4 linked regions of the Homo sapiens genome follow. The protein of the gene in region 3 interacts with the protein of the main gene of each other region in a pairwise test. Each region holds a gene or a part of one and is shown on either strand. Other genes may lie near its edges. The genes, in order: WWOX, BICD2, TSGA10IP and RORB.

Region 1 (6,214 bases), on a different chromosome or scaffold from region 3:
TCCCTGTAAGAAAGCAATCTTAGAACATCTACTCTCTCACAATCATTGAATATATAGATATGCCATGATATTGTGTCTATTTTTTATATATCTCATAGTTAAGTCTACTTTAAGACAGGAATCTCCTCTTTCTTTTAAATGAGCATGCATTTTAAAATAGAAAAACCTGAAAGCAAAACACGGTGTAACATGTGTCCCTGTGAGTATTATATTAGAGTACTAACCAATGCATTACAAATATCAATATGTGGGTGCTTTTTTTTTCTTTACCATATATTGTTTATCAGAAACCTCTGTACCCTTTCCTTTAAAGGAGTCAATATGCATTTGTATTCTGTGCTGACAACTATAAATTGATGGCTAGCAGTTATCAAATGAATGTTGATGAAAAGCAGCTACTTAACATTTTCATCCCAACACCGAGTTTTGGAAGGATGGATAATTTAGATCTGAGGGCCTCAACTATAAATAAACAGCAACTGCTTTCTAAATCCCACCTTTCTGTAGTTGAAGATTGTGCTGCAAATCTGACAGATGATTTTTGAAAGAGAATGATGAATCCTTATTACCAAGATACTCTTAATCCCAAACAAGAGTCCTGGGTAATTTTACATATACTCTCAAGATTGATTGCACAGTTCTCCTCTGGCAGCTCACAAATGTTTGACTAGATCGGAAATGGCATTCGGGCATGATTAAAAAGATTCTTCTGGGCTTCCCAGAAATTCTCAGTCCTGTGTCGTCAACAACCTAACTCATTGCCATTGCTGCGGGATAGACACCTCCCCCGTTTCCCATGATTAGCAACCATATACAACCTACAGGCTTCTGATAAATGATTGATTCTCAAAAAAAAAAAATCGTTTAGGGGAACCCATAGCTCCAGCCAGTGTTTGTATGTCAAGGTATTATTATTTATCACAATGGATCAGTAAGCATTGATGACAACTGGCAAGGTATTGCTTCAGATATTTTATAACGGAGTTGTTAACATTATTTCCTTTAGATGGCTCTTTCATCTTTTCTGCATTATGAACTGATGCCCCAAAAGGTGGTATGAATGAAAGTCATCTGATGGTGATTAAAGTGCTCTTTAAATTTTTTTTTTAATCAGTTTAAGAATGCTTTCTCTTTTATTGGCAGTACCTGCTTGTTTACTATTGAGATTTCACTAATGTGCCTCAGTCTTATTCTGATGATATGTAGGCCGAAAAGCTGGTGAGCCAAAAATGAGAACCTGTTACTAAACTGTCATCACATCTGATCATATTAAGATGTCACTCAGAGGTTGCCATTGGTACGGCTGAAAATTCTCCAAGAGACCAAAGGTGTGGTGTGTATGGGACCAACAAGATATTGTTACTGCTTAATTGTCCAGCAAGGGAGGAAAGTAGAGTGAGTACCCATGAGCACCAAGCATGAATCTGAGAAGGAGAATTTGCCAAAGGTGGACGATTGATTTTTGGAGTAGAGAAGGTCGTCTTTGCTTTCGGGTGCCCCTCCTGTGTACTGTGTTCTACAAAGCCAGAGCCACTTGTGATGGAATTTAGATGGTAAATCACCCCAAGCCTAGTGGCAAAGGAATCAAAGCCATCTCCTGATAAAAAGTTAGGCTTTTCAAAAAGGTATGGCTCTCAGCATTGTAGCCAAATGTAGGTTGGCATGAAATGAAGCCAGTTGTAATTGCCTTTAGATTCCGTGGAAGGAAAAGGTAGGTCCCCAGCTCCTGCAACAATGGCATTCTGAATCAATGGGACTGCAGAATTTCTTAGCAAAAATACCATTCCAGTAATGCAAGAGTGCAACGTGGTATCATTACAGTAGGTCATAGTGGCAAAATATTTTATCAGGTTAGGAAGAATTCTGCTTTTTGCTTTCCCAAACGGACTGCTTTGGTCTTTCCTCACGCTTGGCAGAACAGTGAAAGGCCAGTCTGTCATGACGTTTGAATGCTGAATAGTATAACCATTGTGGCATAGAGGGCGGGAGGCTGGACTTGAAATGGGTGAGCTGGATTCTCCCACCACTCGGGAGTTAATGGCAAGTCACTTGGCCACTCTGGTCGTTTTGGCAGCTGCAAGGTAAAATGAAAATATATGACAGATATCTGGAAGTTGATACAAAACACCATCTCCACCAGAACTCTAAGATTCCAGGCCAAAATAATACTTGGCTTGAGTTAGCTGGATGAGCATCTCAATTCTCCAATTTGTCTTTAGAGGCACTTCTGCTTCCCTTTTCCCCACATGGGATGCAGAAGAGCCAGATAAACCCCTTGAAGTTGTTTAGATAAATGTGCCAGGTGCTAAGCTCAGGGTTATTAGGAATAATAATTCAGTGAAAGGAAATTTGGATGACATGAACTCATTTCCATTAGACTTGAGCCACACAAATCAATGGGAAAAGAAACAGCTGAATCCAGGATAATATCTGGCTATTTGGAGTGGGCATGATAATGGAGGGAGATTGGGGAGGTAACAAACCAGCTACTATTAAGTTCAAGTCATGTCAGTTATTCAAATTCAGGACCAGTGGAACTTGTCCAGTATCATCAAGCAGCCAGTTATTATCAAAACCCAAGTCTTTGTCTCACTCACGGTCCACACCCCGCCCAGAGTCGTATCACTTGACTGCATTTGACCATTCAGTTTTCAGACCAACTCCATTGTTACTAGATATCCTGACACTGAAGAAGCTAAAACCAAACAACAATGACAACAACAAACCCAAGTCTGCCTTATGGCAGATTCTTCACGTCGTAACACCTTCCTTGGGACCCTATTTCTCAGTATGGACCTGACTCTCCCAGGGATCCTAGAATGCAAGCATAGTGATTGCAAACCAGACCATTTGAGGGAAACTCCTCCAGTAAGCACCCTGCATGGTCACAATGTAAACCCTGCAGGGGCAGAAAAATGATAAGCTTTGGGTCGGGTCGGAAAGCCATTTCCCCCACAATCAAAGTTCCTTAGTGTTTTCCTTGTGGGGGCGAGCTTATCTTCAGTTACCTTTTCCGGTCCTCTCTTGCAACCCCTCTCCCTCTCATCAGCTGAAAATTAGTGGATGCAGCTAGGGCTCTGAAACACATAAATAATCATAAGATGCCAGATAAACTGTATTGGTTTTAAATTAGAGACGTGCCGACCATGTCTCCCTCTGAACAGCAGCCTATTATTTTTAATTATGGCTTGCAAAGCAAAGTGATTTCTTGCCCTCTTTATAGCATCCCTGACAGTATTCTGTCAGTTTGGATGATATGATGCCTCATCACTGCACACGTCCCTAGCCACAGCCGCAACTGTTACTCAAAAGGTGAATGAAAGTGATCAGCTGCACTCTTTGCAACTTACATTTTGAAGTGGGCTGGGAGGAAATGTACCCCCTTACCTGTGGTCCCATTGTAAATCTGGGTCAAATATGACATTTAGAAAAAGGTTTTCATGGGATCTGGATGAATTAATGTGTTATGTGTTTGTGCTAAGTATGAATGTATGGTGAGGAGTGTGTGTGTGTGTGTGTGTGTGCATTAAATGTTTTAACACAACATTGCCAACCCTTCCCCTAGCAGCACCGTGGGCAAAGCATAAAGGGATGATCTGGCAGCAGCCCCACTTGGGTTTTCTACCTGATGGACCACAATTAAGAGTGGTTGGTTTGTCAGACAGAAGGTTCTACAAACGATTTGGTATCGAATTACATTATACATGGAGAAGTTGAGGGGTTGGATGAATTTGTTCTTGCACGTTCAGAAGGATACCATCTTTTTCTCTGTGTGGAAGAGGCGCCTGCCACGACGTATTGATATGTGTATTTATTTTCCAAGCCTGTCCCTGTATGAGGTGTCAAAAGTTACACCAGCTTTACAAGCGGAGTTTATGAACTCGTTTTTCCAGGATAGTCACATTATACTTTTTACAGTCATGTGCTTTCAGCCCAGTACCCTTTGCTATGCCAAGATCCAGCTGAAACTGAACCAGGTGGGGGAGGCCTGCTAATGCCCAGGCAGTCGAAATGACGCCATCTCATCACTCCTTTTCTTAAAATTTTTTTTTGTCTTTCTTCTTGGATTTCCAGCAACAGGGAGCTGCCACCACCGTGTACTGTGCTGCTGTCCCAGAACTGGAGGGTCTGGGAGGGATGTACTTCAACAACTGCTGCCGCTGCATGCCCTCACCAGAAGCTCAGAGCGAAGAGACGGCCCGGACCCTGTGGGCGCTCAGCGAGAGGCTGATCCAAGAACGGCTTGGCAGCCAGTCCGGCTAAGTGGAGCTCAGAGCGGATGGGCACACACACCCGCCCTGTGTGTGTCCCCTCACGCAAGTGCCAGGGCTGGGCCCCTTCCAAATGTCCCTCCAACACAGATCCGCAAGAGTAAAGGAAATAAGAGCAGTCACAACAGAGTGAAAAATCTTAAGTACCAATGGGAAGCAGGGAATTCCTGGGGTAAAGTATCACTTTTCTGGGGCTGGGCTAGGCATAGGTCTCTTTGCTTTCTGGTGGTGGCCTGTTTGAAAGTAAAAACCTGCTTGGTGTGTAGGTTCCGTATCTCCCTGGAGAAGCACCAGCAATTCTCTTTCTTTTACTGTTATAGAATAGCCTGAGGTCCCCTCGTCCCATCCAGCTACCACCACGGCCACCACTGCAGCCGGGGGCTGGCCTTCTCCTACTTAGGGAAGAAAAAGCAAGTGTTCACTGCTCCTTGCTGCATTGATCCAGGAGATAATTGTTTCATTCATCCTGACCAAGACTGAGCCAGCTTAGCAACTGCTGGGGAGACAAATCTCAGAACCTTGTCCCAGCCAGTGAGGATGACAGTGACACCCAGAGGGAGTAGAATACGCAGAACTACCAGGTGGCAAAGTACTTGTCATAGACTCCTTTGCTAATGCTATGCAAAAAATTCTTTAGAGATTATAACAAATTTTTCAAATCATTCCTTAGATACCTTGAAAGGCAGGAAGGGAAGCGTATATACTTAAGAATACACAGGATATTTTGGGGGGCAGAGAATAAAACGTTAGTTAATCCCTTTGTCTGTCAATCACAGTCTCAGTTCTCTTGCTTTCACATTGTACTTAAACCTCCTGCTGTGCCTCGCATCCTATGCTTAATAAAAGAACATGCTTGAATATCATCACCTGAAGTTTGTATTGTTTCTTTAAATGTTTGTTTCAGTTTGTTTTTGTTTTTCATTTTTTAGAAAAGAAATCTAGAGGAAAAATAAAGCGCTTCTAATAAAGCGCTTCTCGTAGATGCCAGGAAAACACGATTCTTGTTTCTTCTCTGAGTGAGTTTGTGTTTTGTTTTTGTGCTTTGTGGCTGTCCGTGGGCCAAGTTGTCTCACGCGATTAGCATGCCAGCATATTTTCTGTTAAAGAAAGAAAAAAGAAAAATGACTATTGTTTCATTTCACCTTAAGATGTTTTGTTATTACTTACTTACAGTGAGTTATTTTAGTCCTCAATGGTCTGCTCCCCTGCAATTAGCAAGTACTTAGTGATTAGCGGGTATCTCTATGTTTGAGAATGGGAGCTGTGCAGAAGCTCTTATCTGCGCATCCCATCTCATGGACACCATGATTTCCAGCCCGTTCCAGCAAGCACATGAGAAAGTCCACTCTGGCAAGACGGAGAAAATGCTTCTGCTGAAATACCAGGAAGGTGTGGAGGCTGGGTGTCATTGTTCCCCCTCCTGATCATGGCAGCTTCAGGCCAGACAATGTCTTGAACTTCTGTGCCTCTGCATCTGTGGTGCAGAGCAGTCGAACAAACAAACACCATTGCCCTCCAGTGGCCCATAGCCTTGCCACATCCTCCCATCTGGCTATAGTCTTCCTTACGTAATCCTTATTATCACAGGACCTTTGAAACTATGAATCAGATAATGTCACTTTTCAGACATTATTGTCATTTGCAAAAGCAGCCGTCAGAACTCCACTCTCAGAATCTACACCTGGAGGGGATCACCCCTCCCATATGACCTCTGACTTTGGCCATGTGACTGGCCTTGGCCAATTTGGAAAGTGCTTTGCACTGGGGCTTGCCTTTCCTTGTTGATCTTTGGAACCCTGCAACTTCCATCATAGGGAACGGCTCCTGGGCTAGCCTGCTGGATGATGAGAGACACGTAGTCACTCCCAGAACCGGCATCCAGCAGTTAGTTAGTTAGACATGTAAGTGAGGCCATCCCAGACTATCCAGCCCCAGCTGTGCCA
Region 2 (8,700 bases), on a different chromosome or scaffold from region 3:
GTGGCCAAAGCAGGATTTGGGAAGGTTGCTGTGGTGCCTGGAACCTGTGTAGTTTGAGCCCAGCAGGAGGAGGAGAGCCAGGAGTCTCCATCCACTGGGGCAGGTGGGAGGAGAGTCTCGCTGGCTTGAACAGGAGGCTCAGGGAAGGTTGAGTGAGCACCTGAGTGTCTTTTCTCACTGACTGGCACATATTTTAATTGAGCCCTGCCAGGGCCTCGGTGTCTGTGGAACCTGAGGAAACAGTGTGAGCAAAGCCTCATTCTCCTAGAAGGCATGTGGCAGATATCAGGGGAGAGCAGTACCCCGTGCCTGTCCCTGGGGCAGGGGCATGTTCACTGTGGTGCTGAGCCAAGGGCAGGAGGAGTGTCAGGAGAGTCCTGCAGGCCTGGGTGGGGCCCTGAAGGAGGCAGGGTCCAGCTTGGGTTTGGTGGCTACACGGGGAGTGGGCTGTGGGGACAAAAGTGAGGCTGAGACGACTGTCTTGGGGGCAAGAGGGGCCAGTGCCTTCTGAGGAAGGATGAGGCCCCATCACCAAGATGGAGGTGGGATGGTCCCTGGGGACTGCAAGTGGAGCTGGAAGTTGGCACGTGAGCTGCAGTCCTCCTGGCCGTGGCCTTTGAGGGTCAGCCCCAGGTTCTCATTGGGAATGGCTGGAGGAGTGGAGCATGGGTCGGTTGAGAATGGGCTGATACTGGCTTTGCCTTTCACTGAGCCTTGGGGCCTGGGCAAGGCCTTATCTTTAGTCCTGGCCTCAGTTTCCCCATCTGTAAACCGGCAGTCTCTGAAGCCCGTTGTAGAGGATGCCCCACAGGTCTTTCACCCCACATTGTGGGAGCACTTATGGACCCTTGTTCCTGACACAGGAGCACCACCCTCTGCAGCAGATAATCTTACGGGAGGTCAGCAGGGCATAGGCCCTGAGGGTATGCAGTGATTAGGGCTGCTGCTGTTGGCTTAGCATTCCAGTACTGAAGGATGCTGCCCTCGGGGTCAGCAGCGGAGTGAGGGGTCAGAGATCGCTGAGGCCCTAGGGGCCCAGGGAGGAGCTTGGCTTAGACTCAGGGTGGGGAGTCTCAGATCCTGAAGCGGCAGTACATGATCTCATTTCCTCTCACAAGGAGCCCTCTGGTCGGTGGGAGGAGGGGCTGTGTGTATGGAGAGATGTATCCTTGGCTGCCCCAGCTGCCATCTGTCTGGCCCGTCTATTCCTGAAAAGCGTGTGCAGGTGCTGTCTCCCCAGCCCAGCACATTCTGCCCCTTCTCTCTTCCAAGAGGCCTATCTCTGGTGGCAGAGGCCAAAGAGGGCTGGGTGACCCTGCTGGCTTCAGGTAAGACTGGAAATGAGCACAGCAAGTTAAAGATGCTGCAGGTCTTGTGGGGAAGAGAGGATTTCTGTGGTTCCTGTTTGTGCTTCAGGAGGAAATCCTGAGACTCCCTGCACACCCCTCAGCCTTCCCTGTCTCTCCTGAGGGTCCCCACCTTGGTCCCTGGGTCTGCTGTGTCCCCCATGACTGTGTCCCTGCCCTGGGTTGCTGCAGAGCTGTGGGAACCATCCCAGGTCTTCGCCTTGGGTACCTGGTTCGGGTGGAGCATCTCTAGGACTGACCTTGTCTCACCACCACCAGTCCCAGTCATGCATAGCTCTTGTCTTCTGCTGCCTGCTGTTCTGCTGGTCTGAGCCACTGTGCCAAGCTTCTCTGTGCCCACCCCCAGCGTGGCTTTCCCCAGTCACTGCCCAAGGCTCACACCCCATGGGTCAGAAAGGGTACATTTGACGATAAAACAGCCTTCATTGTATCCTTTGACCCACCACCCTGCTACCCACAACAGCCCCTCCCCTTTTTTCCTCCCTTGGGTCAACTGGTTGTCTGTCCCCCTCCACACCCCAACACACCATGAGGACCTGTGAAGCTTTACAGTAACAAACATATTTGGCATGTGTTGGACAGTTCTGATTGCCTCAGACCTGGTCCTTCTGGTGACCCTACTGGTATCTCGTCAGATGTGAAGAAACAGAGGTTTGCAAGGTTCCATCATGTGCCTAAGGTGTCCTGGCTGGTAGGGGGTGAGGTGCTTCTCAGATCCTGACTCTAACCGCTGTGTATGTGTGGGCCCTACATGTGGGCAGCCCCTCCAGCTTCTCTCCTGCTAGTGAGAGCATCTTTCCTGCCTGGGCCCCTGGGAGGTGGGTAAGCTTCTGAGGACTGGCCTGGATTGGGCCTTGGTGGGGATGTGGCTCCATTTCCCAGATGGGGAATCAGAGGCCCAGAGAGCCACAGGAGGCCTGGGGTCAGAGCTGGGTCTCATACACACACCAAGATCTTTCTTCATATTTGCCCCAAGAAGGAGTAGGGTGAAGGGGCTGGCCTAGGCCATCAAGGCAGAGATGAGAGTTTCCTGGTGTTGAGGTTGTCTGGTGGGGACAGGAGAGAGGGCAGCCGACCCCCTGCACAGTGGCTCCTTGAAACAGGCAATTGTCACACCCTGCTTGCTGATGAGCAGTCTGAGGTGTGGGGATCCCACAAAGGGGAGTTGAGATGGGACCCTGGTGGTCAGCTACAGGCCTGTGCTCCCACCTCCTTCATTTGGGCTGCCCAGTCACACGCAGCAGAGCTTGTCCCCTGTACTTCTTTGGGCTGACATCAGACAGGCTCACTGGGAGAAGGTGCTTACTTGAGGGAAAACTAAACCCCATGGCGACCAGTCAGCCTGTTTGAGCCCTTGGCAATTGGCCGTGTGCTGGATGGAGGTGCTAGGTGGCAGGCCACATGAGCCTGGCTGCCTACGCCCAGTAGTGTGGGCATGGAAGCACAGTGTTTGCGTCCTACTACAGCATCAGCAGAGATGGTGCCATCATCACCCATGACATGGTATGGCCAGGCCAGCATTTGACCTGGGTGTGCCTCTGTGTTCTGGGTTTGGCAGTGGTGCAAGGACAGAACTCCTAGTACACCTTGCCTGGGCCAGGTGATGAAGGACCCTGAGGACTCACATGAGCACTGCCAAGGGAACAGCAGTCTCGTGTGTGCCTCTGGGGGACCCTAATGGTATGAGGCATCTGGCCAGGCTCTCTGCTTCAGTCTTTAGTTGGGCATGTCACTATCTCCCTGCCCAGGCACATGGAAGCTTCTGGGCTCTCACTTCCCACTGCCTGGAGCACCTTCTAGGTTTGTTGATCTTGACTGGCAGGCCTGGGAGAGTTGGTGGGACTCAGACCTTCCCCTCAGCTTCCACTCCGCCTGAGGAGCCGGCTGGGTGGCCGCGTTGAATCAAGTGGCACATGTTTGCACACCTGCTGCAGACCACTTGCTTGCCAGTTAGCAAGGAAAAAGCAGGAACTGGGCAAACCTTTCTGGCAGAGAGGTACCCAAGTCTCCAGCTGGGGTGTGGAGAGCCTGGGTGTGACTTGGCTTGTGCAGCTCCCCTAAGCACACTCCTGGGGGGTGCTGCACTCTCACTAGCAGGAGAGAGGCTGGAGAGCCTGCCCACTCCCTATCCACCCCCCGTGTAGCCACTGTGGGGCCCGGCCCTGGTGATGGCTGTGCTGGTGCTGCTTTCTCCCGCTTCGTCCCAGCATGCACCTCGCTCACTTTCTCCTCTGGTACAAGGCTTTGCCAGGCCTTCTCTTCCTCCCTGTGTGGTATCTCTGTTTCTTTTGGTGTCAGCTTTCTGTCACTTCCTTGGGTCACTTATAATGAGAGGGCCATGTCTGCGTCCATTTGCTGTAGGTTTTAAATGTAATCTTCATTGTAAATAGTAAGCATTTGTCAGTAGTACTTGCTGTATATTGTTGACTCTCCTCCCCTCTCTGTTGCATTCCTTTTTTCCTTTGTTTTGGGAGGGATGTCCTATTTCATTTTGCCAGTATGATCGTTTTGTGTGTACTTGCATGGGATCTTGGAATCTTGTCTATAAAGTATGTTCCATTCAGATGAGTGCACACATGTGACCAGGAGAAACCATAGCATAAGCCAAGAGAACAGTGTGAGAGGTGGGCGAAGCTATGGGGCCCGCAAGATGGACAGGGCTTCTGGCCGAGAGTCCAAGAGGGCTTTGGAGCAGGGGTGGTGATGGTCTGGGGAGCCAGGCCTTTGCAGATACACAGGGAGGCAGCTGGGTCAGCAGAGTACAGGGAGGGGATAGAGAGTTTGTCAAGGGGATGATTTTGCCCCTGGGGGACATTGGCAACGTCTGGAGAGATTTTTCAGTTGTCACAATGGAGGAGGCAGCCGTGTCTGGTGGCCAGAGGTCAGGGAGCTGCTAGACATATGATGTACAGGCCGGCTCCCACCACAAAGAAGAAACGTCCCTGAATGTTGCTAGGGCTGCGGCTGAGGGGCCCAGGTCCCTGGCACATGGCAGCAAGTTGGAAATTCTGTCTTGATTGCATCCTGTTTGCCCCAACCCTGCACTAGCCTCTCCCATGACATCTCTTGGCTCCTTATGGGCAACTTAGAGCCTGAACTAATTTTTAACAGCTTTATTCAGGTGATTTACATCTCATATAGTTCACCCACATAAGGTGTACAACTCAGTGTATTTTATGATAGTCACATATATGTGCCCCATTCCACAATCTTAGAACAGTTCATTGCTCCAAAAAGAAAACCCATTTCAGTCACTCCCCATCCCCCTCCCCAGCTCCTGGCAGCCACTAACCTACTTTGTGTCTCTATGAATTTGCCTATTCTGGATATTTCATGGAAATGGAATCATATAATGCATGGCCTCTCGTGACAGGCCTTCTTTCACTCAGCAGAATGTGTTCACGGGTCATTCATGTTGTAGCATGTGTCAGTACGTCATTCCTTATTGTGGCTGAACAACATTCCATTGTGTGGAGAGACCACATTTTGTTTATTCATTCATCAGTCAATGGGCACTTGGGCTGCTTCCACCTTTTGGCAAAATGAACGCTGCTGCTGTGAACATGTGTGGACCGGTTTCTGTGTGGGCATGTGTACATTTCTCTGGGGTAGACCCTCTGTGTTTAACAGTTGCAGCACCTGCAGGCTGTTTGCCAGAGCACTATACCATTTATATGCCCACCTGCGCACTACTGTGTACATGCCCAATAATAGAAGGCAGGAACTACTTTTAACCCCATTTTAATTTAAAGATGAAGAAACCAAGGGTCGGAGCAGGCAGTCACGGGTTCCCAGGTGAGAAGGGCTGAGGGAATTTACTCTGGAACCTCTGCAGTCCGCTGTGCACTCTGGCATACTGCTCTGGGCTCCCTCTCCTCTCCAGGCAGTCACACTGGCACCTGCAGGCCAGGGCTCTTGAGTTCTGGCTGTATGGCTGGCCATGGCGTGCCTGGCTGCACTGAGCCCCTCTCGTGCCCTGTGGAGGCTGCTCATACCTGCCTTTCCCTCTCCCCCAACAGATCAACCAGAATGTGGAGATCCAGCGTGGCCGCCTGCGGGATGACATCAAGGAGTACAAATTCCGGGAAGCTCGTCTGCTGCAGGACTACTCGGAACTGGAGGAGGAGAACATCAGCCTGCAGAAGCAAGTGTCTGTGCTCAGACAGAACCAGGTGAGTCTTGGGCCTGTGGGGTGGAGGTGGCACGTGGGTTAACTGGGCCTTGAGGACCTCTTGCTCAGCCCCTCTCCCTGTTGGGAAGGGGTTCCTGTCTTATTCCACACACCCGAGGCCCAGGGCCAGCTTTACCACTGTGGAGGCAGGGGTATACTTGGTGGGACCCAGACTCTCCAAAAGATGAAACTCTGGCTGCAGTGTTTGCTGACATTGGCCAGGCTGAGGTGTCCCAGCCAACAAAAATGAAAACAAAAATCTGAGAGGTAATGAAGAGGTTACACCAGAAAACCCCAGATTGGACTTTGAGACTCCCCCATCAGGTGCTGACCATGAGGCCTGCAATATTCCTGTGTCTCTGCCTGTGACAGGGACAAGGAAGGTCCTCTCTGTCTGTGACGGGGATGAACAGGAACCCCTCTGTCTCTAATGGGGTCTCAGAGGGACCCCTGACAGGGACGAGTAGGGTCTCTGCCTGTGACAGAGATGAATAAGGAGGGTCCCTTCTCTTTGTGATGTGACTAAATTGTCATGTGCTCTGCTGTTCTGCCACTCAAGGCCTGAACTTGCTCTTCTCTCTGCAAGAGCCACACTCCTGCATGGTGGGGAATGGGAGTCTTTTCTCTCCCAAAACTTTCCCCAGAATGCCATGGATGTCTTCCTTGCTTTCCTCAAATCCTCTACCACCAAAATCCTCTGAGTCTCACCATCAGGGAATGTGGTATTTATGCCCGGAGGAGGAAGCTCATGTGTTTATGCAGAGCTCCTAGCCTGGTCCTTCTGTGACAGCTCGAGCTCATTAACAGTCTTAGCCACTGTCTACATTGTAAGTACCATTTGGTCATTGGTGCTGCTGTTGGCAGAGCCCAGCGCATGGTGGCCTTAGGAGAAGGGAAACTGAGGCTTGAGGCGACCCTGTCCTCAGGTTGGCGCTTAGTGGAGTCTGACTCTCTCTCCCTCTCTGGGATTCCTCACCTCCGCATTTGTGGTGCTGGGACTGAGGGCTCCATGCCCACCTCCTGTGAGCACACCTTGGATGTGGTAATGGGTGTCCCTTCCGACCCAAGACCCACAGAGATGTGCTCAGCACTTCCTGTTACTGGTTTGTTTCTTATTTTTTTCTCCAAATATTACAGAAAAATAAGAAATAGTTTTAGCAATTGCCCACAAATTCTGAGCCTCCACATCAGGCATCAGTTTCTATCTGCTTTTTCCTTGCCCACCTGCAGATACAATTTTCATGTAGACAAGACTTTGATGTTGCTTTTCCCACCTACCTTCGAGCTCCTCCAGGTCTGGGTGTCATGTGCATGTGGAGGTTTAGTGGTTGAGATGTTCTGCCTTGCGGGGAGTTTCTGTTCCTTCATTTTGAACTATGATTAGAAGTCATGATCATAGCACACATTGAAATATATTTTTATGTATCTTAAGATATTTAGTTAACTGTTAATGTTAATTAAATAACTTTATAGAATTTTTAATCAGCATGCACTTGGTAATATTTGTGAATGACTTAATACAAGGTTGGCAGCCTTCTATGGATGGATGTGTGTTGTTCTTGGTGCATCTCCACACGTACAGTCCTGGCTTGGGGCCACCTCAGACATTTGTGCTCCCCTTGCTGTGTCTGCTGGTCCCAGCGGTGGGTGGGCTGGGCTGAGCATTTCATTGCATTCGCATCTCATGCCCTGGAACCTTCTTAGCATCCACATCTCTGAGCAGAGGAAGCAGTCTTGGCCTGGACGGGCTGCCACCCTTCCCAGGATGGCACCTCACCTGGCGCTTCATCTTTTGCTTCATAGTGGCCGGAGTTGGTGTGCTGGTGTGTTTTCTTCATTTATGGGGCCTGAAAGGAGCTTCCACATTGCATTGATGCAAGAGCGTTGACTTCTCTTCCCAGGTGGAGTTTGAGGGCCTCAAGCATGAGATCAAGCGTCTGGAGGAGGAGACCGAGTACCTCAACAGCCAGCTGGAGGATGCCATCCGCCTCAAGGAGATCTCAGAGCGGCAGCTGGAGGAGGCGCTGGAGACCCTGAAGACGGAGCGCGAACAGAAGAACAGCCTGCGCAAGGAGCTGTCACACTACATGAGCATCAATGACTCCTTCTACACCAGCCACCTGCATGTCTCGCTGGATGGCCTCAAGTTCAGTGACGATGCTGCCGAGCCCAACAACGATGCCGAGGCCCTGGTCAATGGCTTTGAGCACGGCGGCCTGGCCAAGCTGCCACTGGACAACAAGACCTCCACGCCCAAGAAGGAGGGCCTCGCACCGCCCTCCCCCAGCCTCGTCTCCGACCTACTCAGTGAGCTCAACATCTCTGAGATCCAGAAGCTGAAGCAGCAGCTGATGCAGGTGAGCAGGCAGTGGGGCCTTCGGCACGCTGTCCCCACTCCAGGTCTGCAGGGCTCCCCGAGCAGTGCTTACCTGACACTCTGCTGATGTTAACTTTCCCTTTTCCTTACGTTGATTTTATCTCCTGCATCATTACGGTAAATGGAACTCCAGGAGCACACATAGAGGAGTCTCAGAGAAGTGGTTTCCTGGCACTGCAGCACCCACATTGCTCCCCTGTTAACTACGTGGTGTCAGGGTGAAGTGATGAGACACTGGCCCACATGTGATCCCTGCACGCAGGCCAGGTGTCAGGGGCCCACCATGGTCATGCTTGGGCTCATCCCCTGGGACATGGATCCCTGTTGATCCAAGGCAACAGAGTCCTGTCCTCCGAAGCAGAGGGCTAGGGTGCTAATATTCCCGACTACACACCCAGCCAGCCTAGAGCTCCACTTTCTTAGCCCAGATCCCCTGTAGCATGGTTGGGGAAAGAGCCTGCGTTGAGGGTGACCACCATTACTGGTGACGGTTAGTGTTCTGAGGGCCCAGCATGAATTCCATTCTTTCCACACCCTGTGTGTCTTTGTCCACCTCACTGACAGCATGGCCAAGGAACCTGGGGCTGACAGCCTGCCCTGACATGGGGTGGGATGTCACTAGGCCATCTTGGGGGTCCTCCAAGCTCTCGGGGTCCATAGCAACTGACATGGTGTCCTGCTGCCTGTGCCTTTGCAGATGGAGCGGGAAAAGGCGGGCCTGCTGGCAACGCTGCAGGACACACAGAAGCAGCTGGAGCACACGCGGGGCTCCCTGTCAGAACAGC
Region 3 (8,700 bases):
TTATCTACTCATGGGCCCTTAGGATATAACTATTAAAAGACTTGGAATTAGCTGGGCATGGTGACACGTGCTTGTAGTCCCAGCTACTCAGGAGGCTGAGGTAGGAGGATCTCTTGAGTTCAGGAGATCAAGACTGCAGTGAGCTATGATCCCACCATTGCATTCAGCATGGGCAACAGAGTGAGACACTGTCTCTAAAAAAGAAGTTAAGGGGCCGGGCGTGGTGGCTCACGCCTATAATCCTAGCACTTTGGGAGGCCAAGGCGTGTGGATTGTCTGAGCTCAAGAGTTCGAGACCAGCCTGGGCAACATGGCGAAACCCTGTCTCTACTGAAAATATAAAAAATTATCCAAGTATGGTGGTGTGTGCCTGGAGTCCCAGCTACTCAGGAGGCTGAGACATGAGAATCACTTGAACCTGGGAGGCGGAGGTTGCAGTGAGCTGAGATTGCAGCACTGCACTCCAGCCTGGGTGACAGAGTGAGACTCTGTCTCAAACGAACAAACAAACGAACAAAAAACCCAGCCTGGTCAACATAGCTAGACCCCTGTCTCTACAAAGGAAAAAAAAAAGATTAGCCTGGCTTGGTGGAAAGTGTCTGTAGCCCCAGCTACTCCAGAGGCTGAGTCAGGAGGATCTCTTGAGCCCAGGAGATCAAGGCTGCAGTGAGCCATGATGACATCACTGAATTTTAGTCTGGACAACAGAGCGAGCCTCTGTTTCTAAAGCAAAGGAGACAGTGGGAGCTGAAGGGGAGACTGGAGGCTGTGAGGAGACTGTTGGCAACACTGAGGTGAGGAACCAAGAGGCCCTGTGGATGGAGGGAGGGGATCCATTTAAGAGACACTTAGAGGCTGGTTCAATAGGCCATGGTGACTGGTGACAGGAGGCATGTGAGGGCAGGGGAGAGTTCATTCAGCATTCTTATAGCACCCCACAATTTTTTTTTTTTTTGAGATGGAGTCTCACTCTGTTGCCCAGGCTGGAGTGCAGTGGCACAGTCTTGGCTCACTGCAACCTCCGACTCCCAGGTTCAAGTGATTCTCCTGCCTCAGCCTCCCAAGTAGCTGGGACTACAGGAGCCCACCACCACGCCTGGCTAATTTTTGTATTTTTAGTACAGACGGGGTTTTACTATGTTGGCCAGGCTGGTCTTGAACTCCTGACCTCGTGATCTGCCCGCCTCGGCCTCCCAAAGTGCTGGGATTATAGGCATGAGCCACTGCGCCCAGCCACAATTCTTTTTTTAAAATTTATTTTATGTAATTGATAAATAAAAATTGTATTTATGGTGTACAACATGAGGTTTTGAAATATGTTTATATTGTTGAAGGTCTAAATCAAACTAATTAACATATGCATTACCTCGGTTTTTTTTTTTTTTTTTTTTTGAGACAGAGTCTTGCTCTGTTCCCAGGCTGGAGTGCTGTGGTGTGATCTCAGTTCACTGCAACCTCCGTCTCCAGGGTTCAAGCAATTCTCATGCCTCAGCATCCCAAATGGCTGGGATTACCGGTGCCTGCCACCACACCTGGCTAATTTTTGTATTTTTAATAGAGATGGGGTTTCACCATATTGGCCAGGCTGGTTTCGAACTCCAGACCTCATGATCTGCCCGCCTCAGCCTCCCAAAGTGCGGGGATCACAGGCGTGAGCCACCACTCCCGGTCTTACTTGATTTTTTTTTTTGTAGTGAGAACACTTAAAATCTACTCTTTTATTGATTTTTAAGTATACAATACATTGCTTTTAACTACAGACACCAGATCATACAATAGATCTCTTGAACTTATTTCTCCTCTCTAACTGAAATTTCTTATCCTTTGACCAACATCTCCCTTCTTCTCCCCACAAACCCAGTGAGGACTTGGTAACCACCATTCTACTCTCTGCTTCTATGAGTTTGACTTTATTTATTTATTTATTTATTTAGAGACAGGGTCTTGCTGTGTTGCCCAGGCTGCAGTGCAGTGGCACAATCATGGCTCACTGCATCCTTGACTTCCAGGGCTCAAGTGATCCTCCCACTTCAGCCTCCTGAGCTCTAGGACTGCAGTCATGAGCCACCATGCCTGGCTAATTTTTTTTTTTTTTTCTGAGATGGAGTCTTGTCTCACTGTTGCCCAGGCTGGAGTGCAGTGGCGCGATCTCAGCTCACTGCAAGCTCCGCCTCCCGGGTTCACGCCATTCTCCTGCCTCAGCCTCCTGAGTAGCTGGGACTACAGGCACCCGCCACCACACCCAGCTAAGTTTTTGTATTTTTAGTAGAGATGGGGTTTCACTGTGTTAGCCAGGATGGTCTCGCTATCCTGACCTCGTGATCCACCCGCCTCAGCCTCCCAAGGTGCTGGGATTACAGGCGTGAGCCACCACACCTGGCTGCTGGCTAATTTTTAAAATTTTGGTAGAGATGGGGTCCCATTATGCTGAGTTTGACTTTTTTAAGATTTGGCACATAAGGGAGATTATATGGTATTTGTTTTCCTGTGCCTGGCTTATTTCACTTAACATAGTGTCCTCCAGGTTTATGCATGTTGTTGCAAATGATGGGATTTTCTTCTTTTTAAGGCTGAAGAATGCCATTGTGTATATATACCACCTTTTCTTTATCCATTCTTCTGTTGATGGAATCTTAGGTTGATCTCATATCTTTGCTACTGTGAATATTCCTGCAATGAACATAGGAGTACAGCTACCTCTTCAACATACTAATTTCATTTCCTTTGAATATGTACCCAGAAGTGGGTTGCTGGATCACATAGTAGTTCTACTTGTAATTTTTTGGGGAACCTTGATATTGTTTTCTATAATGACTGTACTAATTTATATTCCCACCAACAGTAAACAGAGATTCCCTTTTCTCCACATCATCACCAACCCTTATCTTTCATCATTTTGGTAATAGTCATTCTAACAGGCGTGAGGTGATATCTTATTATCATTTTATTTTGCATTTCCCAGATGATTAGTGATTAGTGATGAAAAAGACATTTGTATGTCTTTTTTTGAGAAATGTCTATTTGGGTTATTTGCTTATTTTATTATTATTATTATTATTATTATTATTATTATTTTGAGATGGAGTCTCGCTCTGTCGCCCAGGCTAGAGTGCAGTGCCACGATCATAGCTCACTGCAGCTTTGAATTCCTGGGCACAAGTGACCCTCTCACCTCAGCCTCCTGAGTAGCTGGGATTACAGGTGCATGCCACCACATCCAGCTGATTTATTTTTTAACTTTTTATTTGTAGAGATAGGTGTCTTGCTATGTGGCCCAGGCTGGTCTCAACCCCTGGCTTCAGGTGATCCTGCTGCCTCCACCTCCCAAAGTGTTGAGATTACAGGTGTGAGTCACCATGCCCTGACTCTTTGCCTTTTTTTTTTTTTTGAGATGGAGCCTCACTTCGTCACCCAGGATGGAGTGCAGTGGCATAATCTTGGCTCACTGCAACCTCCCCCTCCCAGGTTCAAGTGATTCTCTTGCCTCAGCCTCCTGAGTAGCTGGGATTACAGACGTACATCACGAGGTCTGCCTAATTTTTTTGTATTTTTTTAGTAGAGACAGGGTTTCACCATGTTGGCCAGACTAGTCTCGAACTCCAGACCTCAAATGATCTGCCCGCCTTGGCCTCCCAAAGTGCTGGGATTTCAGGCAACAGCCGTCGCGCCTGGCCTTTGCCCATTTTTTGAGTTATTTGCTTTCTTGTTACTGAGTTACTTGAGTTCACATATTTTGGATATTAACCCCTTTTCAGATGTATGGTTTGCAAATATTTTCTCCCATTCTGTATGTCATCTCTGTTGATTGTTGCCATTGCTGTGCAGAAGCTTTTCAGTTTGATGCAACTTCATTTGTCTATTTTAGCTTTTGTTGCCTGTGCTTTCTGGGTCATAGCCAAAAAACCATTGCCCAGACAAGTGTCGTTAAGCTTTCTTTTGTGTGTGTGTGTGTGTGTGGTGTGTGTGTGTGTATGTGTCTGTGTGTGTGTGGCAGAGTCTCAATCTGTCACCCAGGCTGGAATGCAGTGGCTCAATCATGGCTCACTGCAGTCTTGACTTCCTGGGCTCAGGTGATTCTCCCACCTTAACCTCCCGAGTAGCTAGGACTACAGGTCTGGTCCACCATGCCTGGCTAATTTTTTGTATGTTCAGTACAGATGGGGTTTAAGGCTGAAGAATGCCATTGTATATATAGACCACCTTTTATACACAATATATACACAATATATACCATTGTGTATATATACCATGTTGCTCAAGCTGGTCTCAAACTCCTGGGCTCAAGCGATCCACCTGCATCAGCCCCAAAGTGCTGGGGTTACAGGTGTGAGCCACCATGCCTGGCCTTTTTTTTTGGCTCAAGATTGCTTTTGCTGTTTGGAGTATTTTGTGGTTCTATATTAATTTAAAATTGTTTTTTCTATTTCTGTGAAAAATGTCATTGGAATTTTGATAGGCTTGCATTGAATCTGTAAATTGCTTTGGATAATATGGACATTTTAACAATATTAATTCTTCCAAAGCACCCTTCATTTCTTTTTTCTTTCTTTCTTTTTTTTTTTTTTTTTGAGATGGAGTTTTGCTCTTGTTGCCCAGGCTGGAGTACAATGGCGTGGTCTCGGCTCACTACAACCTCTGCTTCCCTGGTTCAAACAATTCTCCCACCTCAGCCTACTGAGTGGCTGGGATTACAGGCATATGCCACCACGCCTGGCTAATTTTGGCATTTTTAGTAGAAACAGGGTTTCACCATGATGACCAAGCTGGTCTCAAACTCCTGACCTCAGGTGATCCGCCTGCCTCCACCTCCCAAAGTGCTGGGATTACAGGCATGAACCACCGTGCCTGGCCTGGAAGCAGGAGACTTCTAGAAAGAGTAGGGAAAGGCCTTGAGCTGGGACCGAGGGCTGAGCCTCCAGGGCAGTCTCTGTCATGGACTTCCATGACAAACCCTACTCCCAGGACACTGGCTCTGGACACTGCAGCCCCTCCCCACAGGCTTCCATATTCCCTTATCCAGCCCCTGGCCCTCCGTGAGGCTCCTGCTGCCCGTGAACCTCTCATTCCCCTTCCCTTTCTCACCCAAGGAGCCTGCTGCAGGCCTGGGAGCGGCAGCGGCAGGAGGAGCGGCAGCAGGCCGAGCTGCGGCGGGCCCGGACACAGCATGTACAGCGGCAGGTGGCCCACTGCCTGGCAGCCTACGCACCCAGAGGGAGCCGGGGCCCTGGGGCGGCCCAGCGCAAGCTGGAGGAGCTGAGGTAGGGAGCCTGGGCTTCGGGAGGCCTGGTTGGGAGAGGGCAGGGAGGCCGTGTCAGGTCTCAGTCTACAGGACCGAGGAGCACCAGCCCTCGCCTTCCCTGGGGCTAACCAGGCCACTTCACCGCGTTTCCAGATAAGGACGCTGAGGCATGGGGAGAAGGGGTCTGTCGAAGGCCACCCAGTTAATAATGACAATCTCTGCAGCTGTTGAATGGTCAAGGTTAAAATATTCTACATGTATGATCACACTTTCAAATCTTCATTTTCTGATTTCCAATGCCAGACATGCTTGTTATAAAATTTCAAAGATTACAGAAATAATGCCTGGAGAAGGTGAACAGCCGTGTGACCCCACTCTGGGAGACAACCATTGTTCACAGTCAGCTGAAGAGTCGCGTTTTGTTCTCTTCCTATATTGTGACCATTTTCCTTTTTTTTTTTTTTTGAGACGGAGTCTCGCTCTGTCGCCCAGGCTGGAGTGCAGTGGCGCGATCTCGGCTCACTGCAATCTCCGCCTCCCAGCTTCACGCCATTCTCCTGCCTCAGTCTCCCGAGTAGCTGAGACTACAGGCGCCCGCCACCACGCCCGGCTAATTTTTTTTTTTTTTTGTATTTTTAGTAGAGACGGGGTTTCACCGTGTTAGCCAGGATAGTCTCGATCTCCTGACCTCGTGATCCACCCGCCTCAGCCTCCCAAAGTGCTGGGATTACAGGTGTGAGACACTGCACCTGGCCGTGACCATTTTCCTAATAAGCAGATTTGTGGGCAAACGTTTTTGGACTCCTAACAGGTCCGTGAAGCAGGGAGTATTGCTGCTGGTGGGCCAGGTCAGGTTCTTCCCTTGGCCGCACAAAAGAAAAAGTTTATTGCAAAGCAAAGGCCACCCTGACCAACATGGTGAAACCTCATCTCTACTAAAAATACAAAAAGTAGCCAGGTGCGGTGGCACATACCTGTAATCCTAGCTATTCGGGAGGCTGAGGCAGGAGAATTGCTTGAACCCGGGAGATGGAGGTTGCAGTGAGCCGAAATTGAGCCACTACACTCCAGCCTGGGCGACAGAGCAAAAACTCCATCTCAAAAAAAAAAAAAAAAGCCCACCCTGAGGACTGCTCAGAGGGAGAGACGGCAGCTTGTGCCTTAAGAGGAATTCCTTTTATGGAAGTTGTTTATACCTAGTCACAAAATACTGGTGAGGTCAGGTATGCAAAGGTGGACCTGTGGTGGGCGCATGCGCTCAGCATCTGCATGCTCCAACACGCATCACATGTAACATTAGCATATACAATCTCTACCTAGGGGTGTGTTTTTTTACCATCAAAACGAGGAAAATGTTGCTATAAGCTAAACCTTGAGCCTAGCTGTGTATGCGGAACCCCGAGAAGTCCTTAGCTCCCTCCAAGGCAGGAATTTGTAGCTAATAGCTTCTTGGGCTTTTGGTGCTGATTGGCTGGAGATCGGGGAAGCTACATTATGAATAAGGGGCTTTTGTTTTTTTTTTCCTGGGCTGTGCTAGGTATGAGGGAACTTGTAGCCATCTGGTATCCCCTAAGACTGCTTATCTTGCAAAAGAGTTAGGTACTCGGCTGTACGCCGTGGCTCACACCTGTAATCCCAACACTTTGGGAAGCCGAGGTAAGTGGATCACCTGAGGTCAGGATTTCGAGACCAGCCTGGCCAACGTAATGAAACCCCGTCTATACTAAAAAATATATATACAAAAATTAGCTGGGCGTAGTGGCGCGCGACTGTAGTCCCAGCTACTTGGGAGGCTGAGGCGGGAGAATCACTTGAACCCGGGAGGCGGAGGTTGCAGTGAGCCGAGACTGCACCATTGCACTCCAGCCTGGGTGACAGAGAAAGACTCCGTTTCAAAAAAAAAAAAAAGAGTTAGGTGCTGATGCACGAGGGCACAGGGGCTGCAGAGCTCCTGCGAAAGGAGCCCCTGGGGCTTCATACAAGGGGAAAAGTCAGTACGGCCCGCTCACCTTACTATCCTACCTTGGTATCTCCACCTGCATAACCCCACCGGTGAGGAACCTGAGGCTCAGAGATCTTCAATAATTTGTCAAAGGTCATGCATGGGCAGCAGAATTGGGTTCCAGCCACGATGCTGCCCTGCCTGAGCACTCAAATCCTCCGCTTTTAGACGAAAGGCACCAGGACCTTCCCCCAAGAGCCCAAACCAATGACACATGTAACACAAATAAATCAAATAAATATGACCAAAACCAGTGCCATTGATTTGAGCACCTCCTGGGTGCAGCGGGCGCAGGGCATCTTTTTCTGCACCCTGTCTCCTTTGGTCCGTGGCAAGTGGGGTGAGGGTCCTGCCCTGCCTTAAGGCCACTGACGGCTCAGCGGGGTTCTTATCACCTACTCTTTGAGGCTCAGTCTTTTTTTTTTTTTTTTTTTGAGACAGAGTTTCGCTCTTGTTGCCCAAGCTGGAGTGCAATGGCGCGATCTCGGCTCACCGCAACCTCTGCCTCCCGGGTTCAAGCAATTCTCCTGCCTCAGCCTTCCGAGTAGCTGGGATTACAGGCATGCGCCTCCACGCCCGGCTAATTTTGTATTTTTAGTACAGACAGGGTTTCTCCATGTTGGTCAGGCTGGTCTTGAACTCCCGACCTCAGCTGATCCGCCCGCCTCAGCCTCCCAAAGTGCTAGGATTACAGGCGTGAGCCACCGCGCCCGGCCGAGGCTCAGTCTTAATCACCCCAATTTTACAGATTTGGAAACAGAGGCTCTGAAAGGTCAAGTGTGTTTTGGGGGACTGCTTGGGCCAATGTTTAGGGGGATCCTTTCTCCTTCCCAATCTTGCTCTGTTGCCCAGGCTGGAGTGCAGTGGTGTGATCTCAGTTCACTGAAACCTCCATCTCCCGGGCTCAAGCAATTCTCCTGCCTCAGCAACCTGAGTAGCTGGGACCACAGGTGCGCGCCACCACACCTGGCTAATTTTTTTGTATTTTTGGTAGAGACAGGGTTTCACCATATTGCCCCAGCTGTCTCAGACTCCTGACCTCAAGTGATCTGGCTGCCTCGGCCTCCCAGAGTTTTGGGATTACAGGCGTGAGCCACCGCGCCCAGCCAAGTGTTTTGTTTTCACAGTGAGGCAGGAAGTGTAAGGTTCAGAACTCCAAGTGGCAGGTGCAGCAAAAAGAGTGATTCAACCTCACTCCTTTTACTTTCTATTTGAGAGGGCTAAGGCATAAGTAGGTATCTCCCATGCAGTCTCTCAGCCATTACAGCCTATGAACTTCGCTGTCTGAGCGGAACAGGAGACTCTGTCCTGCCTAGGAAGGGCAGGCACAAAAGAGGTTGTCCTGTGGGAGGGAGGGATGTGTCTCCTTCCATTCTGAGATGATGGACGGGGCTGACACCCATAGGCACCACTTCCCTTTCTGCTCAGGGCTCCTGTCATTGTTTTTTTGAGACAAAGT
Region 4 (8,631 bases), on a different chromosome or scaffold from region 3:
ACGTCAAAGATCAGGGACTCTTAACCCCTTTCTTTCCCCGTAGCTTCCCTGGGGATAGTCTCTTAAATGCCCTAGGCGGGGGAGGAGTAGGGGGTGGGAATAGGTTTGCCGGATTGGCCCCGAGGGAGACCACTGAATCCCAGATCACCTTTCCGTCGCTCAAAGCGCCCTGATTCAGGACAGTTGTCAGCTGCAAACTGTGGAGCCCAGGCGCTAACTAGGACCACCTGGGAATGGAAAGCGCGCGCGTGTGGATGAGGGAAATGCAGTGGGCCCACCGTAAAGCCCAGGTCAAAAATGGCCCCTCTCCCAACATAGGGTGCTTAGTAGCCCTGCACGAGCGAAAGCTGATTCTTTTCCCGCTTTCACTTCTCAAGTTCACTCTCAAGTTCAACTCCCAACTCCACAAGACGTCAGAGTAGCCTGGATCTTTTCTCAATCCCATTCTTACGGAACAGCCTCTCATACTGTGGTAGGGCACTGTCCGGGGAAAATATGAAGAGGTAGTAAGGAAAGACACTAGGGGTCAGGAAAGGGCAACCAGGAATGGCGATAGAGTGACCTGGTCATCTTTTAAGCTTACATTTTCTCCAGCGCATTCCCCTAAGGCCGCCTGAGAGCTGCCTCAAGTTAGAAGTTGTAAGGGGTCCTAGGGCGCCTGGCGAGGCTGGCGCCCTCTTTGATAGGTCTGTGGGCTTAAACTGGTTTTCTCAAGGTGAGCATGAGGACCAGCGCCTGGCTTTCAATCCTTCCAGCTTCTGGAGTCCTCAAAGCGACCGCCGTGGCGAACCAGGACAGTCATCTGCAAACTGCTCCTTCAGGAGATGCTAGATCAAGCTACAACCCATCCCCACCCCGCGCCGCACTCCTTCTACGATGTAAGGAGTGAGCGGATTTTATGCCCTAGGTCCTAGTGCTGGGTCCGAGCTGAGGTGGCGCATAGTTTACGACGTTCAGAAAGTATGAACCCAGCCACAGGGGGAAAGTTAGAAGGGAAGAAGGGGAGGGACGAACTGGCAGCTCTGGACTGGGACGGGGGAAACCGAAAGAATGGATGGGATGGTGAGATGGGCTAGAAAAAGAAAAACAAAAGACCGGGCGTCTCTTACTAAGCCAAGGTTCTCTACTCTCCAATTGCCCAAGTATAGTTTCTTGAAAGAATTTAGACAGTGGAGCGTGTAACCAACCCCCAACCGGGACAATCAGCTGGAGCCAGCGCGCACACACACGGGTGCCCCACTCCCAGCGAGCCGGCCAATCAAGACCATCCCATCAGGACGTCCTTGTTTCTTATCTACAGTCAACCCCCTCCCCCATGGACAGTCTCTCTCCGTTCCTTCTTCTCCTTCCCTTTCCTGACACATCCCAGCGTCCAGCCAGCAAACCCTTGAGTCCAGGCTCGGGGCTCACCGGGTGCGGGAGGGAGTGGGAGTGAGACCCGCTGCCTCCTGGGGTGCTCCTCTAGGGGCGTAGGGGGACTGGGTGGGAGAGGATCACTTTCAGTGGAAGGAGGAGACCAGTGATTGCATCCCAACTCTCCCAAGTGCTCCCTGCCTAGACCACCTCTCTCCGGGTCTGGGATGCAAGAAGGTCTGGAGCTGGCCGTTACTAACTTTCTGTTGTCAAGACCCAGGGGTACGTGCGAAGGATAGAGAAGAGCCCCCGATTAACCGCTGTGTGGCCAGGAAGAGGGACTGGGAGTGGGGGTGGGTGCCCAGAGCTTGCACAGATCCCCATGTCAAGCGGACACCCGCCTGGCTCTTCAGTAAAAGAGTGAAGAAAGGCCGAGCACAGCGCGAAGGAAACCTGAGGTCTCCGGCAAGGCAGGAGAGGAGACCAAGTGACTCCCCGAAACCCACCCTCCAGCCCTTCGAGAGGCCCAGAGTCCAGCCGGAGCAAGCGTAACGCTACAGTCCCTGGCGCGCATCCCTGCAGACCCCAGCTCGCCCCGGGGTCCCGCCGCCGCCGCCGCCACCGCCTGCGACTGCGAGGGTCCTGGCCCGAGGGTGCACCAGCACCTCCTTCCACTACCGGCCCTTTATCTGACAAAAGAGCCGGAGCCCATGACTCTCCGACTGTGAGCAGTGTGGCCTTTCCAAGCCTCCAGAACTTTCTCATTACAACTTTTCCGGGGTCGCACTACTCCCTGGGCCGCGCGGGCTCGGGCACGAGGACCTGGCCAGGGCGCAGCGCCGGCACGAAGGCGCGCGCCGCAGAACTGTTTCCTCAGCCGCGTGCCGGGGAACTAACTGTTTCCTCAGCCGCGTCCAGCCTCGCAGCACTGCTCTTCTGCTTGCTACTCCAGCGAAGGGACATGCCTGCTGGCCAGGACGCTTAGTGGGCCTCGTAACCTGGCGAGTGTGTGCCCGCGCGTGTCCACCCTGCCCCCGGCCGGTGCGCCCCGCGCGCCCAAACCCGGCCGGCGACCACTGCGCGCCGGGCGCTTCCAAACTGCTCCTGTCCAGAGGCATCCCTCTTTCGGCTTTCTCCATCCCGCGTCCGCTTCCGCACCCGAGAGCGACAAGCAAAAAAGATTCAGTGCAACTCAAGGACTGGTAAGAACCAACTAGCCTGTCTCCCCTCTCCAAAAAAGCGCCCTCCCGCGTCCCTCCAGAACTCCCGAAAGACATCAACACCTTCCCGCAACTTTCTACGCCCAGGCCATTTGCAGCCCCACCTGCGAGAGCGAATTCGGGGAACTGCGCCTGGGCAACCTCTTTCCCTTTCTGCTGGGTGCCCTCCCCTCCCCCATCTCCCCGTCTGGCTGGAGTTGGCCGGACTCGGGGAGCCTCGGTGCCCGCAGACTCGCTTACCTCGCATGGTGTGGCCGCTCTCCCGCTCCGCGTAGTCATGAAGCTGCTCCCAGCCCGAACCCCGGAGAGCCCAAAAATCCCGCTCAGCACGAGTGAAGAAGGTGGTCGGCGAAGAGCTGCTCTGCCGAGAAAACCATCCCTTTAGGCGGACGCCGTGGCTGCAGGGTGACGTTTGCCGCCGCCGCCGCTATGTTAACAGTTTTGATGTTGGTGGTGACTGTTTTGATGATTGTTTGTTTGTTTGTTTGTTTTCAGGAAGGGTGAAAAAAAAATGTTCTGGCTGTCTGGTGCCTGGGTTTTGTTTTGGTTTTGTTTTTCTTTTTCTTTCTCTCCAATGTGCTTGCTTTTTAAAAAATGCCACCGCCTCCGGCTCAGAAGATTTCTTTTGTGATCACTTGGACTGAGGAGGAGGAGGAAGGGCAGCAGCAGGAGGAGGAGTTGGTGGTGGTTTTGTTAGTTACAAAGAAGAGGGAGAAGGAACAAGGGGGAAAAAAGGAAACAGAAAGAAAAGAAAGAAAGGCGGTGTGGATGGCAGAGCATGTGCGTTTTCACATGACATCTGTGCCTGTTAGCGGATCCACAATGTGAATTTTCACTGTTCAGTTACAGGGAGGAAGGGAGCAGCGAGAGAGAAAGAGAGGGGAGAGATGGAGAGAGAGCGCTGAGAGGGGCTTATACGCGAGGGCGGGCTTGGCCGCGACTTCCAGGCCCCGCCTGCTGTCAGCGCAGCCGCCAATCAGAGCCCAGCAGCGCCTGGAGAGGCTGGGACCGCGGGGAGGGGACGTGGTGGAGGCGGGGGGTGGGGCGGGGGCTGGGGACCAGGGAGTCCGAGGTGGCCGGGGCTGCGACGGGGAATTCGAGACTGTCCGAACTGGGCAGAGAAGAAGGGCCGACCGGGAGAGTCGGGCAGATCCGCAGGTGACAGGCACTTCCGACTCCAGCAGAGAAGGGGACACTGATCACGGAAAACCTTCGGAGGCAAGAGACGCGGGGCTCCCCGGGTTTCACGTTCGGTCCCTGTCTCGCAACCCCCGCGGGCCCGGCAGAGTTAGTTTTGAATTTATGGCAGCGCTTTGCCGAGCGCTATTTGGGTAAACTTCGGTCTCCGGCGGGGGTTTCCGTGGGCAGGTGGTTTGGGTGTTGGTGGTAGAATAATGCAAACCCACTTTCATCACTTTTAGCACAACTAAAATGCAGTCCCATGGAAGTAGCTGTCCCCTTCCTTTAAAAACGTCCGTCAGATGCTCCCTGACCCTCTTCTAAAAAAAAAAAAAAAAGAAAGAAAGAAAGAAAAAAACGTGTATATGTTCTTTTGTCTGGGAAATTGATTTTTATTAGCATTTGGAGACTCCCCTGGCGATGGACTACAGGACTGAAGGAGAACAGCTCAAATTGGCGGTGTAGCCACCTTACTAATTCAAGAGAAATGGCTGTTGCTAGAAGGTGTGATTGCAGGGTGCTCTTTAGAAAGGTTTTAGAAGGAAGACATTGTTAACTTTAGTTAGAGGCGATTGGTAACTGAACATAGATAAACTTACTTGTATTCCTTAGGTGAAAATTGTCATCTATGACCATTTATTTGTATTTTGATAAAAATCTAATACATATATCCAAACTGTTCCTTTGCAAGTTTTTCCAACTCAGTTGACAAAATAAGCATATAGATGATTACATCTACTTCCTTCCCAATAGTAGGGAACTTCTTAAATACTTGAGTTAATTGAACACCCTAAAAGATTGGGAGGTGAAAATATTTGCCTCATTCACTCAGTCTTGAGGCTGGGAGATGTCTACTCATTAGCATACCTGTTGGCACAGCAGGCCTCATCATCATTTAAGTATCCAAATAATTTGATTTTTGACTGGTATTTATTCATGATATGTCATGTAACACAAAGTACAATGTAGAATTGGCAGTTATTTAGTTAATTAGGTCGCTCTACACTGCCAAGTAGTTTTTTCCTTCCTGATTAAATGAAAAATGAATTATCTGCTGAATTTTCACCAGTATTAAATTGACGTAGCCCTGCTATATGCCATCCCATTTGCAAACCAATGTGTAATTTAGGAAAATTTTAGTATTAAGAGTGAAAGTTGATTGAGTCATTAATTAAATGAAATGAACAAAAGGAAGTTACTGTTTAGAATAGTTATTCCTTTATAAATATCTTTCTCCTAGATTTGTAATTGACACAGTAGTTAATCTTTTAAGATAATATTTAAGGCTCCCTGGTTTTATCATTTTTAATCAAGTAAAATATATTCATCATAACTATGTTAAAGCTGTACAAAGTTATGCCTAATTTAGTTGCTTCATTAAAAATTACTGAATATAAAATAGTCAAGAAACAAATTGTGACTATATCATTTTAATTTTGTTGCTTCAAGCAGAGACACAAGAATATTGAAAATTCCAAAGGCTTTGTAAACATTGTCTAATTATTATTGTTGTTGTTATCATTTTAGATTTCTATTTCTCTTTAGAGTGAACAGGAATTTCAAAATCCAAAAATTTAAACATTTATGTAATTTTAACTTTCTAAACATTTATTGAATTCTGAATTTTTTTTTAATGCTGCAATATCTGTAATCCTTGAAAAAGGTAGTCAACACGTGTATAAAAAGTATTTACCCCCCCATACATTTTTATATTCTCTTTATTTTGTGGTTTCAGCAAGGCATAATTTTGCTTAGAACATATTTCTTAATTCCTTCTGAGTATTTTTGGAGAAATTATTAATTAGAAGACTATATTATTTCATTTTTCAAAACTATGTATATAATCTCTATATATGGTGATACAAAAGTATGTATTTTCTCTTTAAATGCTAATCATTGGTTATAATGTGGCGGCCTGGGACATTTTGGATCTTTCTAAAAATTTAAAAACTGGTTTGTTGAATATTTCTAATAATTTTCACATTTATTTCACTGAATGGAGCCCATTTATTTAAAATAAATATTAAGAATTTGAATGAAAGAAGTCAGTATTTTCTAAGAACTCACAAAGCACATATATATAATCTGATGGTTTTGTAACCTATCTGCCAGCAAATAATCATATTTCAAGTGGCATAATAATAATACATTACTGTAATGTCCTAGCTCATATGAAGTACGGTATCAGTAATTTTATTTGAATGATTATGTCTGGTTTCCTATAAGCTTGAAACTCTGCTTTTCACTCTGGGCCTGAAGGATTTTCTAAGTTGACAGTTGCATGTTGATTAATTTAAATGACAATCAGTCACATAGCACTGTCCTCAATCTCAAGAATTGACATCAGATTCCACTTAGGCTTGCCTGCTTACCTGTTTTTCTGACACATTAGCACCCCTCAGGTTGAGCTGTACCACAGAATAGGAATGACAACAAATATCCTGAAAGAGGCAAAGTTTTAATATAAGCCAACCAGGTAGGGTGACCATGGCATTTAGGATTATTTCAATCCTAAAAGGCTTAAACAGGAAGTCATAGTTCATGTTATTCTGAGCTGATAAGTCAGAATATTCACTGGTCAGGGAATATTTTAAATAATTAAGACTCTTGAATGGACATTAGCAATACTGATAACAATGTTACTTTTAGGAATGACTGAAAGATTGGTTATGTTTAACTCTATTTAGGGAGCTGTGTGGCTGTGAAAATTGGGAAAGAGATATAAAGCTGCTATTAAATATTAGAAAAGCCAGAAAAATGTAAGAACTTTTAACATTCAAACCTTTTACAAGTGGGAAGGGAAGTACTGAGTTCCCTGTTGCTGAAGGCATCCAAAAAAGGGTTGAATGAAAGGTTCTGTTAGAGATGCTCTAGTATACAGATTTCTATACTAGGGTAGAAATTGTCTAGATTACCTCCAAGATCCTCTGTAGCTCTAAGTGTACAGTTGGCCTTTATGTCCATGGGTTCCACAACTGTGGATTCAACCAAGAGCAGAGCAAAAATAAATTGTGTCTGTACTGAACATGTACAGATATTTTTCTTGTCATTGTTCCCTAAACAATACAGTATAATAATTATTTATATAGTGTTGACATTGGCATTATAAGTAATCTAGAGATGATGCAAAGTATATAGGAAGATGTGCATAGGTTACATGCAAATACTACACACCATTTTATAGCAGAAACTTGAATATCTGTGGGTTTTGGTATCGGTGGGAGGTCCTGGAACCAATCCCCCGTGCATACCAAGGGATGCCTGCATTCACATGGACTAAAGGTTGCTACCACTGCCCCAGCAGGCATCAGAGCCACATTTCCTACCTGAGAATGCAAAATTCATGACAACAGGAGCCAGGATTTCCCTAGAGTTTGTAAGAGCTCCTGGTACTTTATGGGTGCTTGATCATTATTGGTGGAGTGAATGCTTTCTAACCTTTCAGCCACTGAATATGAATCACAAATGGAGTGAAGACCTGAATAAGATCCTTCTTTCTCAGTTTCTATTGAATGGGAAGAGGAGAGTGGGGAGAATCTGCATTTTAAACTCTCCTAATTTGGGGAAGCAAAAAATAATGGTTGAGATTGGTTATATAGTCATAAAAGGAAGCTAAAATTTAGTTATTTTCATATTTATTACTATTCTTAATTAATTTATTTATTCTTTGAAAGGAAGTCTCGCTGGAGGCTGGAGTGCAGTGGCACAGTCTCAGCTCACTGCAGCCTCTACCTCTTGGGTTCAAGTGATTCTCCTGCCTCAGCCTCCTGAGTAGCTGGGATTACAGGTGACCACCACCATGCTTGGCTAATTTTTGTATTTTAGTAGAGACGGGGTTTCACCATGTTGGCCACACTGTTCTCAAACTCCTGACCTCAAGTGATCTGCCTGCCTCAGCCTCCGAAAGTGCTGAGATGACAGACGTGAGCCACCACACCCAGCCCTATTCTCAATTTTATTCCCAGGTACTGAGTCTTCTTCATAATCTTTGAGTTCTTTAAGTTCTGCTTCATTTTAAAGTGTAGATGCAAGTTCAATAAGTTTTCAAAATAAAAAAAAGAAAGCAAATATTAAAATAGAGCATGTAATTTTGAAATAAATTGGAAAAGGTGATAAGGGCCAAAGCATGAATTAACCCCAGTATGTGGGAGAGGTAAGGCTAGCTTTGGAACAAAGACAAAACATACAGGTCAGAAAAAACAAGAGCCAACATTTATTGGATGAATCACATGATTTCTCAACCTATCTAATTTCTATTTCTTACAAGAGTCTACATGTTATACATTATATCTCTTCCTCCTCCCCATCTTTTAAAAAATTATTTTATGGCTAAAAGAACAGAGGCTTAAAAAAGTTAACTCACCTAAGATCACAAATCGTAAAATGCTGGATCCAAGATTCAAACCCAGGTGTAGCCACTAAAACGTGTTTCGTGAGTGCAGGAACTTTCTTCATTTTATTTTATTTTTTCAGTGCTCAATCCACAGAATCTAGAGTCTCTTGCCTGATAAATAGTAGATGTTTAAAATACACTTGTGAATAAATAAATGGACATTTAAACCCTCGTCCACCACACAGTATTACATATGTACATTCTCATCACTAAATGACATTAAATAAAGAAGAGTGAATTTTGACTTTAAAAATAAAAGGACATTGTGAAAAATTTATGAAACAGTAATGGCCTAATTTGGTCCACCATGGAGTTTAGGAAAATACTTCTGCAATAAATATTTCAGGTTGTAAATAATGTAAGGCTGAATTAAATTGGCACCAGGAAAAAGGGGGAAAAATGAAAAGGTTGGTTGCACGACACATTTTGCAGGCAGAAGCTATGACATCTAATGCATGATTAGACCAGTGGTGCTGATGGGCAGAG

What was found.
Region 1: the proteins of TSGA10IP (region 3) and WWOX interact in binary tests that used the Homo sapiens proteins (3 or more experiments, as listed by UniProt).
Region 2: the proteins of TSGA10IP (region 3) and BICD2 interact in binary tests that used the Homo sapiens proteins (3 or more experiments, as listed by UniProt).
Region 4: the proteins of TSGA10IP (region 3) and RORB interact in binary tests that used the Homo sapiens proteins (3 or more experiments, as listed by UniProt).

Annotation. Positions count from the first base shown.
Region 1 is NC_000016.10:79,207,534-79,213,747, forward strand, and holds the end of WWOX (WW domain-containing oxidoreductase), read left to right. Parts: exon of another isoform or gene 1-4,074; coding exon 4,075-4,263; 3' UTR 4,264-5,134; downstream 5,135-6,214. UniProt on the Homo sapiens protein: Putative oxidoreductase. Acts as a tumor suppressor and plays a role in apoptosis. Required for normal bone development. May function synergistically with p53/TP53 to control genotoxic stress-induced cell death.
Region 2 is NC_000009.12:92,719,495-92,728,194, reverse strand, and holds part of BICD2 (protein bicaudal D homolog 2), read left to right. Parts: intron 1-5,386; coding exon 5,387-5,539; intron 5,540-7,439; coding exon 7,440-7,895; intron 7,896-8,612; coding exon 8,613-8,700. UniProt on the Homo sapiens protein: Acts as an adapter protein linking the dynein motor complex to various cargos and converts dynein from a non-processive to a highly processive motor in the presence of dynactin.
Region 3 is NC_000011.10:65,948,480-65,957,179, forward strand, and holds part of TSGA10IP (testis-specific protein 10-interacting protein), read left to right. Parts: intron 1-5,087; coding exon 5,088-5,258; intron 5,259-8,700.
Region 4 is NC_000009.12:74,492,166-74,500,796, reverse strand, and holds the start of RORB (nuclear receptor ROR-beta), read right to left. Parts: upstream 3,463-8,631; 5' UTR 2,821-3,462; coding exon 2,814-2,820; intron 2,556-2,813; exon of another isoform or gene 2,244-2,555; intron 1-2,243. UniProt on the Homo sapiens protein: Nuclear receptor that binds DNA as a monomer to ROR response elements (RORE) containing a single core motif half-site 5'-AGGTCA-3' preceded by a short A-T-rich sequence.